Linked DNA regions of Homo sapiens. The protein of the gene in region 2 purifies or fractionates together with the protein of the main gene of each other region. This does not show direct contact. Each region holds a gene or a part of one and is shown on either strand. Other genes may lie near its edges. The genes, in order: NSMCE4A and MAGEB1.

What was found.
Region 1: the proteins of MAGEB1 (region 2) and NSMCE4A purify together in Homo sapiens (affinity purification with western blotting, with the first as the bait; one study listed by BioGRID). This does not show direct contact.

What each region holds. Positions count from the first base shown.
Region 1 is NC_000010.11:121,968,534-121,972,341, forward strand, and holds part of NSMCE4A (non-structural maintenance of chromosomes element 4 homolog A), read right to left. Parts: intron 2,537-3,808; coding exon 2,406-2,536; intron 1-2,405. UniProt on the Homo sapiens protein: Component of the SMC5-SMC6 complex, a complex involved in DNA double-strand breaks by homologous recombination. The complex may promote sister chromatid homologous recombination by recruiting the SMC1-SMC3 cohesin complex to double-strand breaks.
Region 2 is NC_000023.11:30,245,565-30,249,978, reverse strand, and holds the start of MAGEB1 (melanoma-associated antigen B1), read right to left. Parts: upstream 2,834-4,414; 5' UTR 2,723-2,833; intron 2,590-2,722; exon of another isoform or gene 2,507-2,589; intron 1-2,506.

The DNA.
Region 1 (3,808 bases), on a different chromosome or scaffold from region 2:
GAGAATGGCTCATCTTAAAATTGCCTTCCTGGGAAGAGTTGGCGGAAGTCAAATAATTCTCTCATCTCAAACTGTCTTACAGAAAATGTGTTATATTGAATTTACTTTTATGAAAGTACATTTTTATTACATTATACTGTAAAATGCCTAGAAGTTATCCAATTACGATGGCAATATCATATATAAACAATAATCACAAAACCCTCAGGGAGCTTAACCCTATTAAAGGCAATCAGACTTTAAAGAAAAGAAAGGCTACAAGAGCCTGGTCAGAGCGCTATGGCCAGCTCTTCTCCATTCCCTTGCCGCCCGAACTACCACTGCACCCTTGTAGGCAGACGTGGCAGTTTTGGTCTGTTTAACTGACAGAGAAATCCACCAATCTTTCCTTATAGTGTCTATATTTGATGCTATACATACGAAAGTCTTCTCCACCCAGAGACTGGACAACTATTAATTTAAGGTTTTATATTTAATGCTTTAAGACTTCCAGAATTTATTTTGATATGTTATTTAAAGTACAGAGCTTGGCCGGGCACGGTGGCTCATGCCTGTAATCCCAGCACTTTGGGAAGTCCAGGCGGGTGGATCACGAAGTCAGGAGTTCGAGGCCAGCCTGGCCAACATGGCGAAACCCCACCTCTACTAAAAATTAGCCAGGCGTGGGGACAGGCACCTGTAATGCCAGCTTCTTGGGAGGCTGAGGCAGGAGAATCGCTTGAACCCAGGAGGTGGAGGTTGCGGTGAGCTGAGATCGTGCCACTGCACTCCAGCCTGGGCAACACTCCAGCATGGGCAACACTCCAGCCTGGGCAACAAGAGCAAGACTCTGTCTCAAAAAATAAAAAAATAGAGCTTAACCTGATAAAGTAATTTTTAAAGAAATACCCAATACATGGTTACTTTATTGACCTCTATATTACAGTGCACTTTCCTAAGTGCATTATGTTTCACAATAAAAAAAAGTTAAAAAAAAAAAAAAAAAAGGAAAAGGTTTGAAAAACAAACTGGAAATAATCTGGTGCCTCATGCCTTTACAAAAAAATTATCTGATCAGATCTCATAGTACTAAATTATTTTAATAACCATTTAACATAAACATCCAGTTAGAAATGCAATATTCATACTGAGGTGCAGCTATCTGTGCTAGGACAGAGGTTGGCTCAGATTGACAGATTGACTGATTGATTGATTGATTTTGAGGTGCAGTCTCACTCTGTAGCCCAGGCTGGAGTGCAGTGGCGCGATCTCGGCTCACTGCAACTTCTGCCTCCTGGGTTCAAGGGATTATCCTGCCTTAGCCTCCCGAGTAGCTGGGATTACAGGCGCCTGCCACCACACCCAGCTAATTTTTCTATTTTTAGTAGAGACGGGCTTTCACCATGGTGGCCAGGCTGGTCTGAAACTTCTGACCTCAGGTGATCCACCCGCCTCAGCCTCCCAAAGTGCTGGGATTACAGGCGTGAGCCACTGCCCCCAGCCAGAATAGAATTTTTTAAAAAGACAACAAAGTGAGATACAAGGTCAGTCTCTGTGTGCTTTTTCTTTTTTGGTAAATTCATCAAGGAACAGTTTTAGAATTGCAGGTAACCACTATTCAAACTTGTCAAGAGACAAAGAAAGGTGAATAAAACATAAAACCAAAAAAGCAAAACCTGGCTGGGCTAGGTGGCTCACGGCTGTAATCCCAGCACTTTGGGAAGCCAAGGCGGGCAGATCACGAGATCAGGAGATCCAGACCATCCTGGCTAACATGATGAAACCCCGTCTCTACTAAAAATACAAAAAATTAGCCGGGCGTGGTGGCAGGCGCCTGTAGTCCCAGCTACTTGGGAGGCTGAGACAGGAGAATGGCGTGAACCCAGGAGGCAGAGCTTGCAGTGAGCCGAGATCACGCCACTGCACTCCAGCCTGGGCGACAGAGCGAGACTCTGTCTCAAAGGAAAAAAAAAAAAAAAAAAAAAAGCAAAACCCAATCATATTCACATGGTTTTGAAATATTCTCAAAGACAGACCAAAACATGCCCTCTCGCCAGGCCTAACTCAATTCCAGCTGAGCTCTGCCATCGCAGAGTGGGCTTTTGTCCAGCCCAGGACAAAGGTCTGAGGTCACTGAGAATGATCTAGAACACCAGTGAACAGAGGAAAAATGGCCATTGGCAAATGACCATAGCACCCAGCATCTTAAGACAGAATGCTACGAGATTTTTACTCCAAGCCCCCACCCAAGATTCCACCACATGGTTCTACTTTCGTCTGTTTAAATTGGTAAGATCTCTACAGAGGAATCTGAGACCAAAAAAGAAGAATGAAGTGAAATCATCTGCATATGGATATGAGCACAGTAAATAATTATAATATATAACAGAACATTTTTTATTCAGAGTCTGTAGCTTTGAACTTACTAGAGTTTCAACATATCTTAACATGTCAAAGGAGCTCAGGTCTGAGCGCAGCTGCTTTGCTTTCTCTTTGCCCAAATCTGAAGCCAAAACAAGAAAGTGGGCATCCAGGACTGCTTCTCTTGCTCGGGACACTATTCAAAAAAGAAAGAAAATATTCACATTACAAAATACACATTATCCATAGACTTTTTCCCTACATTTCCAACTACTTACCAGGATTTCCCACTGGACTAAAAAAAAAAAAAAATCTCAATAGGCAACTGACACATCTCCTTCTAAAACGTGCTCCTGGCCAGGTGCGGTGGCTCAAGCCTGTAATCCCAGCACTTTGGGAGGCCAAGGCGGGCGGATCACGAGGTCAGGAGATCGAGACCATCCTGGCTAACACGGTGAAACCCCAGCTCTACTAAAAATACAAAAAATTAGCAGGGCGTGGTGGCGGGCGCCTGTAGTCCCAGCTACTTGGGAGGCTGAGGCAGAATGGCGTGAACCCGGGAGGCAGAGCTTGCAGTAAGCCAAGATCGCGCCACTGCACTCCAGCCTGGGTGTCAGAGCAAGAGGCTGTCTCAAAACAAAAACAAAAACAAAAAAAAACTTTCTCCTGTGCCCAACTCACCAAAATCTCTAATGAAAGCTGACCAGTCTTCCTAAAAGCCAGCTTTCTGTCTAGTTCTCCTACTGTTAGCTGAATCACAATCTCTTAAATAACTCCAGTTGAGCAAAACCCGTCATGTCTAATACTCACTTTTCCCTCCATCCTAATCACGATGATCATGTGTGCTGACGTAAGGAAAATCAAATTCCCACTACATGTAGGGCCCTGTGCTTGGCATGGTGGTTTGTGAACAGCAATAGGTAAGCTGCTAAGCAATAGGTAAGTTGCTAAAGTTGCTAACCAAAATCATGGCATGTGCTAGGCTGGCACTAGGAGGCTCATGCCTCTGTATGGCTTCACAGGCAACCCCAGCAAAGCCACCCAAATGAACAGTCTACAGGTAGCAGGTAGTGACCCGAGGACGGATACTCAAAAAAGGCTTGACAGAGGACATGGGATTTAAGAAAAGCTATGGAAAAAAAAGATTTAAATTAATGCAGAAACAGGCTGGGCACAGCAGCTCATGCCTGTAATCCCTACACTTTGGGAAGCCGAGGCAGGCGGATCACTTTGAGCTCCAAAGTTTGAGACCAGCCTGGGCAACGTGGTGAAACCCCATCTCTACTAAAGAATCAAAAATTAGCTGGGCATGGTGGTGCACACCTGTAATCCCAGCTACTCGGGTGGCTGAAGCTGGAGAATAGCTTTAACCTGGGGGGGGCAGAGGTTGCAGTGAGCCAAGATCATGCCACTGCACTCCAGCCTGGGCGACAGGTGTAGGTGTTCCCAGACTATTTTTCATACTCTC
Region 2 (4,414 bases):
AACCTGTCTTCTGCTAACTGGTGCTGCATCTTCAGACCAAAGCTGTCACCTCCCTTAGACCTGATGCAAAGAAATAAAGTCTCAGCCTGGCAACCCTTGGCCAAGGCCTTTCAGAGCTAAGTGCAGAGACAGGGCTAGCATCGTTGTTTTTCCTCTATTTGGGGTGGGGGTTGGGGGCTTGGGGGAATGGTGCCTTCAGTCCACACTCACACTTCGACTCCCAGAAGGGCCTAGGGCTCTGTTCTCTCTACACCTGAGGACATTTACTCATAGTAAGGCCTACATCTGCCTGAGACCCAATGGAGGAAATGAGGGTGGCTGTATCTGGTCACAATGCCCATATTCTCCAGAGGCTGAAAGCTGTGGCTGGCAGGTTGAAGCCCTGTGATGTGTAGCCCCACTCATGGTCCTCACTCAAGGTCTCCAGTTTGACTCCTGGGAGGGCCTAAAATGCCTCCCACCCCTCCTGCTAACCCATCTGACTAAGACCTTCATTTCCCTGTTACTTCTGAAGAGGAATTTAGGGGCATTTCTGACATTTATGCTCGGGGCTTCCTAGCGCTGACATACAGAGGGACTCTGAGGGATCCCCACTGATGAGGTGGGAGTTCCCTCAAGTCCTCTCTATGAGGCCTGGCACAACCTGGAAATCCTCTCTCTACTGACCTGAGGCCCCTTACATCAGATTAAGATTCTCATTGCCTCATAGTCCCAAGATGAAAGAAAGCCTGAATCACATCCAGTCACCACGTCCTCTATGGGGCTCCACTGTTCTGGGGTCGTTGTTCTCTTTAGTCTTCACTCAAGCAGAGTCTGAGCTCCTCTCTAATCCCACTTGATTCTTCCAGGCTCATACAAAAGCCTTCACCTCTCTGAGTACCCAGGGCTAGTCTTGAGGGGATGACACATCTGGGTACTTCTGCCTGGGGTTTCCCAGAGCTGAGAGGGGGTAGAACTTGGTGAAGCCCCACTCTCTAGGTAAATGCTCATCTCATTCCTCCCTCAGTGACTTCTCTGTCTTGATCTAACGCCTATCCAGTCATACAAAGCACCCCCCGACAACTCCCTGAGGAAGAAGTGAAACTTTTCCCATCTGGCTACAATTGTCCATCATCTCCCAAGGATGAAAATCAGGAAGGAATTCCGTGTTTCTTTCACTGTTATGGGATGAGTGGTTCCCCCAGTTCTCAGGGTCTTCTTTTTGACTCCTGGAATTACCTAGGAATCCTCTAGCTGCTAACATAAGGCTGCCCCCTTTGATGAAGTTCCCCACTTCCCTGAGATGCTCTAGGAAGAAGTGAGTGAGACTCATCATGTCACCATACCTGGATCTCCCAGGTCTCAGTGGGGATAGGGCTCTATCTGTGTTACCTCTTTCTTGGAGGGGGTCCCCTCATACTCCCTCAGTGTCACCATCTTTTAGGAACTGGGCCTCCTCCCTGTACTAAACAAGGGCTTTCATGTTAAACCAAAGCCATTATGTACCTGAAACAGTACCTGAAGGAAATGAGGGGCATCTCAACTTGAGAGTTCTAACCCTGGCTTCTAAGGAATGAACGCCAAGGTAAGACTGTGTTCCTGCCTGTTCTGGACTAGACGGTTACCTCATTCCTCATAAAGAAATTGTACCTTGACACCTGTCTTGGCGTATGACTCCTATCTCTCTACTGAACTGGGGCAGTGAGGCCTTAAACCAAGGCCCTCCTCTCTCTAAGACTATGAAGGCAGAAGCCAGGGAGTACTTGAGCCTGCCAGCTCTGGCCTGGGACTCCCAGGGACAGCATCAGGCGCAATTGTCTCCCTCGTGTATAGAGTAGCCGCCATTTCCTCACTCAGTGTCTCCACCTCCACTCAGCACTCTTTCTGGGACTCCACCCATCAACTGCTCCTAACACCATGCCCCGTAGACAAAAGTTCTCATATTCCTTGGACCTAAGTTCACAGTCATAGTGGGCCACATCCCACCAAGGCTGACTGGGGCCTGCGTGTGCCGACAGCAGGAGCGGGACTTTTTTTTTTTTTTTTTTTTTTTCTTGAGACTGAGTCTCGCTCTGTCACCCAGGCTGGAGTGCAGTGGTGCAATCTCGGCTCACTGTAAGCTCCGCTTCCCGGGTTCACGCCATTCTCCTGCCTCAGCCTCCTGAGTAGCTGGGACTACAGCAGCCCACCACCACGCCTGGCTAATTTTTTCTATTTTTAGTAGAGACGGGGTTTCACCGTGTTAGCCAGGATGGTCTTGATATCCTGACCTCGTGATCCGCCTGCCTCGGCCTCCCAGAGTTCTGGGATTACGGGTAGTAGGGTTTAGGACTCCTCCCTCTATTGACCTGAGTCTATAAGGCTTAGGCCAAAGCCTTCGTCTCCCTGAGTCGCTGAAGAGACAGTCAGGGTGCTACCCATCTGGTTACCTGAGGCCTCCCAGGACCAAATGCAGAAGCGGGACTTAGAGGGGACCTCTTTGTTACGGGTGGGGGTGGTCTCTTCAATTTACACTCAGGGTCCTCACCTTGACTCCCGACCAGTCCTGAGAATTCACCCTCCGCTGACCAGACGCTGCACCCCACTCCTTAAGCTCGCTCGGGTCCTCGCCTTCAAAAGGGAAATGAGGATGAGCCACATCCGGCAGCCCAGGGCCTCTGAGGGCTGACGGCAGAGGCAGGACGCTACGGGACGTCACTGTTCTAGTGTCGCTGGTCCCTACGTCCCCACTAGGGTTCCTCACCTTAGTATCTAGCAGCCTGGGACGACTTCCGCCTGCTGACCCAAATCCGCCAGGCGGACACTGCGCCCTTACGCTCGCTGGGGTCCTCGCCTTCAAAGCGGAAGTCAGGATGAGCCACATCCGGCAGCCCGTGGCCTCCGGGCTGACGGCAGGGGTGGTACGCTTCTGGACGTAACTGTTCTAGCGTCGCTGGTCCCTACGTCCCCACTAGGGGTCCTCACCTTAGTATCTAGCAGTCTGGGACGACTCCGCCTGCTGACCCAAATCCGCCAGCCTCAAACAATAGCCCCACCTCTCTCAGCCCCCAAGGTGGAAATCTGAGCGTGCCACACAGGCCACCCCTGCCTGGGCCTCACAGGCCTGACAGCAGCGGCAGGGCTCTGTGAAAGTCCCGTTTTGGGCAGAGGCCTTCTCATCAGCTCTCAGAGTCCTCACCGTGACTCTGGTTTCCTCTCCAGGCAGAACTGAAGCTACTCCCTTCAGGCCCCACGCTCCCCATCCTCCATGAGACCTTCCAGGCGGAAATGAGAGGCACCTTAGGTAGATAGCTCTGTCTGATGCCTCAAAACGGGGTGAATTCTGTGGGGACTCATCTGCTGGTGGAGTCCCCTCTTAACACTTAAAAGCCCTACATTGATTCTTGTTAGGGTCTCGGCCTCTTCGCTCTGTAAAACTGAGGCTGCCCCAATTAGACGGAACCAGTCATCTCCCTGAGACTTTCCAGGCAGAATTCAGCCTGCCATCTCCGCCAAGGCTTCCTAGGGCTGACAGCAGAGGGGACTTTGTGAGGCCATGTGGGTGCTAGCTACCCTTAGTCCACATTCAGGTCCTCACCTTGACAAGTGAGCAAACCTGTAACTTACCCTTTGTTTACCTGAACCTGCTCCTCTCACATCAAGGTCCTGTTTTCTGAGAATTTCGAGTTGTACTCCTGGATGATCTTCATATGATCACAGTCCTTTTGCAACCTGCAAAAACAGATAATAAGGAAAGGACTCCATAGAACCCCACAGTTTTGGCTGGGTCCTTCCATCAGTCTTCATTTATGCTCCTCGCCTTTACATGTATCAGAACCTGGGACTCCTCTATCTACTGAACTGAGGTCACTCTCCTGAGGGTCTGGATGAACCCTTACATTTTGGAGTGGTTTTCTCCCCACCATTCATTCATGAGGGTTCTCATGTTGGCTTCTGTCTCTTGATCAAACTCTTCCAGGGAAATGTCACATCCCTGCAAAAATTTGACCAGTTTCCTCTTTGCAAACCTTGCAGAGAAGAGGTCCCTGTCCCAGAAGTGATGTGATGTTGGGAAACTGAAACGGAAGGTGGAGAGCCTAGGACAGATGTTGTGCTCTCAGGGAAAAAAACATGCTGATCTATTCCTTCACTTCACCAACCAAAGGGTAGTTCTAAAAGTTTTACTTTCTACAGAAAAGGGTGGAGCCAGATGATTTTTGTAATCTTTTGATCTTTTGAAGCTATCCAATTTTGCTTCTGTCGGTGATCATATTGTCACCGAGTATTATTTCTTTTTCTCTTTAATTCACATCTGTCAATTATTTTGGTATTCTTCTTGCTCTGGTTATGTATTCCAATCCAGTGTTTGGGGTACAGAGACCTCTTCTTTCTTACCTGAGACACACTTTGGGGTTGTAGAAGAAAATGAATTAAGCAATTCACAGTAAGCTTCAGT